3 linked regions of the Homo sapiens genome follow. The protein of the gene in region 2 interacts with the protein of the main gene of each other region in a pairwise test. Each region holds a gene or a part of one and is shown on either strand. Other genes may lie near its edges. The genes, in order: ZNF417, OIP5 and KRTAP13-2.

Evidence for each region.
Region 1: the proteins of OIP5 (region 2) and ZNF417 interact in binary tests that used the Homo sapiens proteins (3 or more experiments, as listed by UniProt).
Region 3: the proteins of OIP5 (region 2) and KRTAP13-2 interact in binary tests that used the Homo sapiens proteins (3 or more experiments, as listed by UniProt).

What each region holds. Positions count from the first base shown.
Region 1 is NC_000019.10:57,906,451-57,910,107, reverse strand, and holds part of ZNF417 (zinc finger protein 417), read left to right. Parts: coding exon 1-1,558; 3' UTR 1,559-3,657. UniProt on the Homo sapiens protein: May be involved in transcriptional regulation.
Region 2 is NC_000015.10:41,326,053-41,329,709, reverse strand, and holds part of OIP5 (protein Mis18-beta), read left to right. Parts: intron 1-3,657. UniProt on the Homo sapiens protein: Required for recruitment of CENPA to centromeres and normal chromosome segregation during mitosis.
Region 3 is NC_000021.9:30,370,795-30,373,833, reverse strand, and holds KRTAP13-2 (keratin-associated protein 13-2), read left to right. Parts: upstream 1-1,562; 5' UTR 1,563-1,620; coding exon 1,621-2,148; 3' UTR 2,149-2,444; downstream 2,445-3,039. UniProt on the Homo sapiens protein: In the hair cortex, hair keratin intermediate filaments are embedded in an interfilamentous matrix, consisting of hair keratin-associated proteins (KRTAP), which are essential for the formation of a rigid and resistant hair shaft through their extensive disulfide bond cross-linking with abundant cysteine residues of hair keratins.

The sequences.
Region 1 (3,657 bases), on a different chromosome or scaffold from region 2:
GTGTGGATCAAAAGATGAGGAGGCACCTTGTAAGCAGAGAATTTCTGTACAAAGAGAGTCTCAGAGCAGGACTCCTAGGGCAGGTGTTTCTCCTAAGAAGGCTCACCCCTGTGAAATGTGTGGCCTCATCTTGGAGGATGTTTTTCACTTTGCTGACCACCAGGAAACTCATCACAAGCAGAAGCTGAACAGGAGTGGAGCATGTGGAAAAAACTTGGATGACACTGCATACCTTCATCAGCACCAGAAGCAGCATATTGGAGAGAAATTCTACAGAAAGAGTGTCAGAGAAGCATCGTTTGTAAAGAAACGTAAGCTCAGGGTGTCACAGGAGCCATTTGTCTTCCGCGAGTTTGGGAAGGACGTTCTGCCCAGTTCAGGATTGTGCCAAGAAGCAGCTGCTGTAGAGAAGACAGACAGTGAAACTATGCATGGCCCACCCTTTCAGGAGGGAAAAACTAATTACAGTTGTGGAAAACGCACAAAAGCCTTCAGCACCAAACACTCAGTTATTCCACACCAGAAACTTTTCACTAGAGATGGATGTTATGTGTGCAGTGATTGTGGAAAATCCTTTAGCAGATATGTCAGCTTCAGTAATCATCAGCGAGATCACACTGCAAAAGGACCTTATGATTGTGGAGAGTGTGGGAAATCTTATAGTCGAAAGAGCAGCCTTATTCAACATCAGCGAGTCCACACTGGAAAGACAGCTTATCCCTGTGAGGAGTGCGGGAAATCTTTTAGTCAGAAGGGCAGCCTTATTAGCCATCAGCGTGTTCACACTGGAGAAAGGCCTTATGAGTGTAGAGAATATGGGAAATCTTTTGGTCAAAAGGGTAACCTCATTCAACATCAGCAAGGTCACACTGGAGAGAGAGCTTATCACTGTGGGGAATGTGGGAAATCTTTTCGTCAGAAGTTCTGCTTTATTAACCATCAGCGTGTTCACACTGGAGAAAGGCCTTACAAGTGTGGAGAATGTGGAAAATCTTTTGGTCAAAAGGGCAACCTCGTTCAACATCAGCGAGGTCATACTGGAGAAAGGCCCTATGAGTGCAAGGAATGTGGGAAATCATTTAGGTACAGATCCCACCTCACTGAACACCAGAGACTTCACACTGGGGAAAGACCTTACAATTGTAGGGAATGTGGGAAATTATTTAACAGGAAGTATCATCTTCTCGTTCATGAGAGAGTTCACACTGGAGAAAGGCCATATGCGTGTGAGGTATGTGGGAAATTATTTGGTAATAAGAACTGCGTGACTATACATCAGAGGATTCACACTGGAGAAAGGCCGTATGAATGCAATGAATGTGGGAAATCATTTCTTTCCAGCTCTGCGCTTCATGTTCATAAAAGAGTTCATTCTGGACAAAAGCCTTATAAGTGCAGTGAATGTGGAAAATCCTTTGCTGAATGTTCCAGTCTCATTAAACACAGGAGAATTCACACTGGAGAAAGGCCTTATGAATGTACCAAATGTGGAAAAACATTTCAGCGAAGCTCTACCCTCCTTCATCATCAGAGTTCACACAGGAGAAAGGCCTTATGAGTGCAGTGAATATGGGAAATCGTTTGCTGAAACATCCCGTCTCATTAAACACAGGAGAGTTCATACTGGAGAAAGGCCTTATGAGTGCTGTCAATCTGGGAAACATCAGAATGTCTGCTCTCCTTGGTCTTAAGAGACTTCGCATTGGAACGGAGTCTCATTCTGTCACCCAGGCTGGAGTGCAGTGGTGCAATCTTGGCTCACTGCAACTTGGGCCTCCCAGGTTCAAGTGATTCTCCTACCTCAGCCTCCCAAGGAGCTGAGATTACGAGTACACCACACCATGCCCGGCCAAATACTTGGTTTTCAGTACCACAAGAGCTATGAGCTGGTTATCCACTTCATGTGGAATCATAAGTGTCCCCAAGTGACAATACGTATAGATTGCTGGGCAGTGAAACAGTTAAGATGTCACCGTAGCTTGCTTTCTATTCAACATCTTTCTAAGATTACCTTACTATTTCTTTTGTTCCAAGTTTGTATTTCCTCAGAGTTCTCACATATGGAAAGGATACACACTTTGTAGAAACAAGAACTTTATGTTATCCAAGTTCTGGGATAGCCATGAGCTCCAATTACCTCAGAGCTCCGAGTCCTCTACTCAGTACCCGTTGAGATTTATGTGTTCTGAGGCTTTTGTCTTCTAGCTACTTACTTCATTCTCCATGGGTAACGTCATTCATCCACATTAACTAATTTCCTCACTCCAAGCTCTTTTCTGGAGATAATCTCCAGTCCCTGTGCAGACACTGTCATTGCACTTTCTGCTGAAATGGTAGTTTCTTGCCAGCAAGGTGAGATTATGGAATCCAGAATCTTTTTTCAGGGGCCACATGCCCATTTCCCCACTTGCATGAATGTCGACACTGTAGCCACAGTTTTGGCCGTAAATGTGAATTTGGCAAGTAACCACTGTTCCCAAATTGGGAAATGTCCCAGTCAGAAGAAGATTATCTGGGACACTGATACTGACAGGGAGATGGGACATTCTGAGGGACCCGGAGGCAGGGAGCCACCTCCTCAGCTTCCCTGAGGGCTGCCTAGAATCTCTCTTGTTTCCTCTCACTCTGAATTATTCTTCCTCTCATGACTGACCAAACACATGGAACCTCACAAAGTCCATTTTAAGAGCTTTATCTTGTGAAGTGAAGAACATGAAGATAGTTTGAATCAAAGTTATTGAGTGGACACTTAATGTCTTTATAACATTTTTTACATATGTGTTTGTGTTTTTTGGGGAGCATAATTTGCAAATGGAATATCTGTTATTTTACTAAGATGCTTCATGGATACAAGAGTTAAAACTTCCTGTCCCATTTAGTGAAACAAAAGGTTAAGAAATGTGGATAAAGCTTGTAAGTTAGAAATGGCAAGATAATCAGCTATATGAAGAATCTCAGCTGGGTGTTTTGGCTCAGGCCTGTAATCCCAGCACTTTGGGAGGCTGAGGTGGGTGGCTTACAAGGTCAGGAGTTCAAGACCACCCTGGACAATATGGTGAAACCCTGTCTCTACTAAAAATACAAAAATTACCCAAGCATAGTGGTGGGTGCCTGTAGTCCCAGCTGCTTGGGAGGCTGAGGCAGGAGAATTCGTTAAACCTGGGAGGCATAGGTTGCAGTGAGCCGAGATTGCACCACTGCACTCCAGCCTGGTGACAGAGCGAGACTCCGTCTCAAAAAAAAAAAAAAAAAAAAAAAAAAATCTCAATCCCTAAATGTTACCTTTTATAACAGCAGGTTATATGGGCTTAGATATTATCCCTAAATTTTTTTTTTTTTTTTTTTTTGAGACAGAGTCTCACTCTGTCACCCAGGCTGAAGTGCAATGGCATGGTCTCGGCTCACTGCAACCTCCGCCTCCCAGGTTCAAGTGATTCTCTTGCCTCAGCCTCCCAAGTAGCTGGGCCTATAGGTTCCCTCCACCACGCCCACCTAATTTTTGTATTTTTAGTAGAGATGGGCTTTCACTACGTTAGCCAGGCTGGTCTCAAACTTGTGACCTCATGATCCACCCCCCTCAGCCTCCTAAAGTGCTGGGATTACAGGCATCTGCCACGGCACTCGGCTTATCCCTAGAAATCCTATGATAGCATGATG
Region 2 (3,657 bases):
GCAAAATGAATAGAAAATTTAAAATTACATATGTGACTCACATTATATTCCTATTAGACAATGCTTGTTTAGATGCTTTGTAAAAAACTGGAGGAAGGCCAGGTGCAGTGGCTTACACCTATAATCCCAGCACTTTGGGAGGCCAAGGCAGGCAGATCACAAGGTCGGGAGTTCGGGACCAGCCTGGCCAGTATGGTGAAACCACGTCTCTACTAAAAGTACAAAAATTAGGGGGGCGAGGTGGCAAGCGCCTATAGTCCCAGCTACTTGGGAGGCTGAGGCAGGAGAATGGCTTGAACCTGGGAAGCAGAGGTTGCAGTGAGCCAAGATCGCACCACTACACTCCAGCCTGGACGACAGATCGAGACTCCGTCTGAAAAAAAAAAAAAAAAAAAACTAGAGGGAAAGCCCCATGTGTTTCTGTATTTGTGGAGTAAGATGAGCTATATGGGACTTACGAAGAGGGTTATGAAATGGCACAGCTCAAGACAACTTGATTTTTTTCTAAGTGTAGGTTCATTACCTAGATGGGGTCAGAGAATGAATTAAGAGGATGATTAATGATGCAGCTAAAAGAGCATAAATTTTAGAGACAGCAGACTCGGGTTCTTTTTATTCTTTTTTTTTTTTTTTTTTTTTTTTTTTTGAGATGGAGTCTTGCTCTGACCCAGGCTGGAGCACAGTGGCGGGATCTTGGCTCGCTGCAACCTCCGCCTCCCGGGTTCAAGCTATTCTCCTACCTCAGCCTCCCGAGTAGCTGGGATTCCAGGCGCACGCCACTATGCCTGGCTAATTTTTGTATTTTTATATTTTTAGTAGAGACGGGGTTTCACCATGTTGGCCATGCTGGTCTCGAACTTCTGACCTTGTGATCCACCTGCCTCAGCCTCCCAAAGTGCTGGGATTACAGGTGTGAGCCACCGCACCAGGCCTTAACTTTACTCTTAATGAGGCATGTGAAATAAATTGATCCCTCTCAATCTGTCATATTTGAATACTCCTAAAATATACTCCCTCCGACATTTATTTAAACATTCTACAATTGGCATGAACCTCTTAGATTCAAAGTCATAAAGTAGACAGATACAAGGTTACTTCCGTCTACATTTTATTGTTCTCTTACTGGTAGAGGATTTATTGTAACTAATTTTAAAAAGGATTATTATAGTATGTTGACACTTAGAAATAGCTTTTTTACCCTGAGCTTTTGTTGTGCTCAACAGCATATTTAAATGGAATTTTGTTTGTATTATAAGTGAAGTACATTTTTTTCTAATTGTTATGGCAAATTCAAACCCGAGAGAAGAATATAATGAACCTCTGTCTACCTGTCACTAAACTAGAGCACTTATCAACTCTTGGCCAATCTTGTTTCATCTAAAATCATAGTTGGCTTATCATGCTGGCTCACGCCTGTAATCCCAACACTTTTGGAGGCCAAGGTGGGAGGATCACTTGAACCCAGGAGTTCAAGACCATCATGAGCAACATAGCGAGACTTCATCTCTAAAACAAAACAAAATATCTATCCTCCACAATGTTTTGAAGCAGATACCTGAAATTACATCATTCCATCCATAAATATTTTGGTAAGGATCTTTATAAGAAACTTTTTTCTATTTATTTATTTTTTGAGATGGAGTCTGGCTCTTTTACCCAGGATGGAGAACAACCTCCGCCTCCCAGGCTCAAGCCATCCTTTCACCTCAGCCTCCCAAGTAGCTAGGACTATAAGGCATGCACCACCATGCCCAGCTAATTTGTTGTAGAGATAGGGTTTCAACATGTTGCCCAGGCTGGTTTTGAACTCCTGAACTCAAGTGATCTGCCCACCTTTGCTTCCCAAAGTGCTGGCATTACAAGCATGAGCCACTGCACTCAGCCTTTCTTTTCAATTATTTTATTTTATTTTTTATTTTTTTGAGATGGAGTCTTGCTCTGTAGCCCAGGCTGAAGTGCAGTGGCAGGATCTTGGCTCACTGCAAACTCCGCCTCCCGGGTTCAAGTGATTCCCCTGCCTCAGCCTCCCGAGTAACTGGGACTACAGGTGCATGCCACCACATCTGGCTAATTTTATGTATTTTAGTAGAGACGGGGTTTCACCATGTTGGCCAGGATGGTCTTAATCTCCTGACTTCGTGATCCTCCCACCTCAGCCTCCCAAAGTGTTGGGATTACAGGCGTGAGCCACTGCGCCCAGCCTCTTTTCTTTTTAAAGATATATCCCAATTCTGGCTGGGTACAGTGACTCACGCCTGTAATCCCAGCACTTTGGGAGGCCGAGGCGGGAGGATCACGAGGTCAGGAGTTCAACACCAGCCTGGATGACATAGCGAAACCCCATCTCTACTAATACAAAAATTTGCTGGGCGTGGTGGTGGGCGCCTGTAATCCCTGCTACTGGGGAGGCTGAGGCAGGAGAATCGCTTGAACCCAGGAGGCGGAGGTTGCAGTGAGCCGAGATCACACCATTGCACTCCAACCTGGGTGACAAGAGGAAGACTCCATCTCAGAAAAAAAAAAAATTTAAACATACCACAAACACTATAATAAGCCCCAGGTACCCAGTTTCAACAGTTATTAATATTTTGACAATTATTTTCCTCTATACTCTTCACTTTTTTTTTTTTTTAATTCCTGGAGTATTTTGAAACAAATCACATACAGTAAATCAACTCTTCATCACTTTGGTATTACTTCCTGTTGTCTTGTAGATTCACAGACTGTTATAACCAAAAAAATAACATAATCTAGTTGACCTCATTCTACTGATAAGGATATGGAGAAACAGTTGTATTTGGTAGTGTATTGGAAGTATTTTCCTCCTATAATATTCTCCAGTGCCCATGATCCAATGTAATGATGGAAGGCCCAGCAAGCTAGGTGATGCTAACCCTTAGTGGCAGAGCAAGGCAACCCAAAGCAGCTCAGCACGGATGGTTAGAGACGTAGTACCTACTGTGGTAAGATTGTTAAAAACATGGGGCCGGGCACGGTGGCTCACACCTGTAATGCCGGCACTTTGGAAGGCCTAGGTGTGCAGATCACCTGAGGTCAGGAGTTCGAGACCAGCCTGGCCAACACGGGGAAACCCCGTGTCTAGTAAAAGACAAAATTAGCCAAGCGTGGTGGTGCACGCCTGTAATCCCAGCTACTCACTTGGGAGGCCGAGTCAGGAGAATCACTTGAACCTAGGAGACGGAGGTTGTGGTAAGCCAAGATCACGCCATTGCACTCCAGCCTGGGGAATGAGCGAAACTCCATCTCAAAAAATCACAAACAAAAAACAATAAGGAGCCACAGACTATACACATGATCAGAGGCAAAGTGTGGGAATGAAGTTCTTTTTTTCTTCTACAGTGGTCAACTTAGGATAAATTTTTTTAAATCATAAACCATGGTTTAGCCACTGAGGCACCGCTATATCATTAATCTCACTATCTGAACTTATTGCAATTTTCTTTTCCTTGTTTTATAGTAATATTCAATAAAATATACTGTGTTTTACTGCACTTGCAGATACTGCTTTTTTGTTTGTTTGTTTTTTTGAGATGGAGTCACACTCTGTCACCTAGGCTAGAGTCCAGTGGCATTATCTCGGCTCACTGAAACCTCTGCCCCCTGGCTTCAAGCAATTCTTCTGCCTTAGCCTCCCTA
Region 3 (3,039 bases), on a different chromosome or scaffold from region 2:
TGCATACTTTTTGGTGAATTTAATAGGTGTCCATTCATAAAGCACAGCTTATTTTACTTCAGTGAATCAGAGTGATGGTTTAAGTATTGCACAAGGGCACTTCATGTGATGCATGCCACACTTTGGATTCTGCATGGGAGAGATAATCATAAAACAAAGTAACTAAGTGCTCTGAAACAGTGTGCTTTGGAATGAAGGAAGTTAATTTTCAGGTAGTTAAGAGGCTCTCTTTTCGATAACCATTGTGAATGCCATTTCCCTTAGTTAAACCAAATAAAATGTCAAATTCAAAAGAAGAAGAATAGACACAGATAAGAAGCCTCTTCCCCCCATTAATCTAAACATGGATTACCAATATTCTTTCTCTTTCTTGGGCTAGGAAGTGAAATATACTTCAAATGTATGAAGATCAGTAAGGCATAGAATTCCCCAGTTGAACACTATTCAGTGTGAATATTGTTAGGAAAAGTAAATAAGGCTTTGTTAGGCTTTTATATCTTAGTATAAATAAGCTTAATAGTTTCTTTTCTGAGACAAGTTAAAGTTGAATTTACTTTTATATTTGCAAGGTATTTGCAACTTGACTCTGAATAAGAAAACCATAATTAAAGCTTCAATTTTGCTTCTATCTTACTGAGAAATTAGGGGAAAGTTAAAGCTCTCTGAGAGGTAATTTTTCCATGTATGGGTTGAACAGGGGATGTTTAAAGACCCATATAACTCTAATACTTCAAGTTAAAAGCTTCAGAAAAATGTTAACAATTCCTCAAAGTTTAAGTATAAATTAATAATTGCAGCTAAGAATCTGTCCTTTTATCCAGAAAAAAAAATTGAAACATAAAACAAAATAAAATTTATGAGTTGATTTAGAGCATAACCATAGAATAGTGCTTGCTACAAGATAGGTTCATCAGAAAATATCTGAAAAACTTCAATTTAAAGTCTTACTAAAAAGTTTGTGTTTATTGTTTCCTAAGTGAGCATTGTCTAAAGTAGCCTCTTGTTAAGGAAGATGCCTGATATGGACACCCAACATAATGCTGCACTCCTCAGTTCTGATCCTGAGCTCTTAAGGTACTAGTAAAAGGTTTAACTGACAGATTGCTGAGGCTACTGAATACAGTTAGTATTTGGAGAAATCCTCCGTTTCTGGTAACAAATAATATGCTTGTGTTAAAAAGAAGGACAATCTATTTTGAGTAGTAACCACTGATGCTCCTGATAACTTAAGGGAAGTAAAGAAAGAATTTTGTGTAATTCCATTTGGTACAATAAGGACTCACTGTACTCAAATAATAAGAGGCAAGATACTCATAAATGTGATGACATATAACATTGAAGGTCAAACCACAGTGAATTCCAGGAAAAAAAAAAACTGAGTGGCTTCCTTCTAAGTGTTCCAGAGTGACTAAAGTACAAGTAAGTATATGAAGATGTGATAAATTAAACAATAACCTAGGGAAGCATTCTTATAATAAAAAGTGAGCAAGGAGAAGGGAGTGTCGAGACAGTGGACACACCCAGGTCTAAGAGCATATATAACTTGGAGTCCAGACTATGACATTCAAACTCAGAGAATCTTTCCACTATAACTCAGCTGAACTCACATCTCCCGTCAACATGTCCTACAACTGCTGCTCTGGAAACTTCTCCTCCCGCTCCTGTGGTGACTACCTGCGCTACCCAGCATCCTCACGTGGCTTTTCCTACCCCAGCAATCTGGTCTACAGCACTGACCTCTGCTCTCCCAGCACCTGCCAGCTGGGTTCCTCTCTCTATAGGGGCTGTCAGGAGATCTGCTGGGAGCCCACCAGCTGCCAGACGTCCTATGTGGAGTCCAGCCCCTGCCAGACCTCCTGCTACCGCCCCAGAACCTCCTTGCTCTGCAGTCCTTGCAAGACGACTTACTCTGGGTCTCTAGGCTTTGGATCCAGCAGCTGCCGCTCCCTGGGCTATGGATCGAGGAGCTGCTACTCAGTGGGCTGTGGGTCCAGTGGTGTCAGATCCCTGGGTTATGGAAGCTGTGGCTTCCCTTCCCTCGGCTATGGATCTGGATTCTGCCGCCCAACCTACTTGGCTTCTAGGAGCTGCCAGTCTCCTTGTTACAGACCAGCCTATGGATCAACCTTCTGCAGATCAACTTGCTGAATTTCCAGACCTTTTAAGCAAAGTGTCTCAGTCTCTACGTAGAGCTGTTATCATAGGCATTTCCAGCAATGTGAGCTAACCCCTCTTACTACTAGCTCTTCATCCTTTCTCTGGCATCAAGTACTGGCTGGACAGGCTAGTTCTTTCAGACTGTGAAATTAATGAATGAGCAAAATATAGAGTCAAATGTCTATAATTTTGAAACAAGTGATTCGTTATCACGTAAGTTCATCTTATAAAGTATATGGAAGTTCAGTTTTGTTTCACGTAATAAATTCATTTACTGTTGATTCCAATATGTTCTCTTTGTCTTTTATTGGTTTCCAAAGTTTGATTTGTGATCTGTTTTGGGGGCTCCAGGCCCCCAGACGTCTTTTCCTTGGACATCCATTTCCATCGGTAATGTCATCAGGCCTAGTGTGTGGGGAGATTCTCCGGGCATGCCAGTGCCTAAAAGACTGAGCAAGTGCATGTCTTCTGCCATGAAAACTGGTTGGATTCTTAACAGAATTATTGAGAGTACACTCATAATGGTGGTGTGTTTTCAAGGAAGACACATTTTGCTGACAATCATATTTGCTTTTTGTTTACATTTTTAAAAGAGTATTTAGAGTTTTCTCAGAAGATGTCAACTAGGTGATTAAATATAAAATTATGAAATATTTGAATAAATCTGAAATGTTATGATGGAAAAGGGAAAATATGAAATGTTAGGTACTGGAGGACATTACGGTTGTGTTTAAATATAGGAGAAAATTAATTATTCAGTGTGTGTGTGTGTTTGTGTTGTGTGTGTGTGAGAAAGAGAGAGAGAGCACAGAAGACAGAAAGACTTAAGGTTTACAACTGTGAGTAATGGAAACAGTTATAGGGAGAAATACTTTGGCTTGT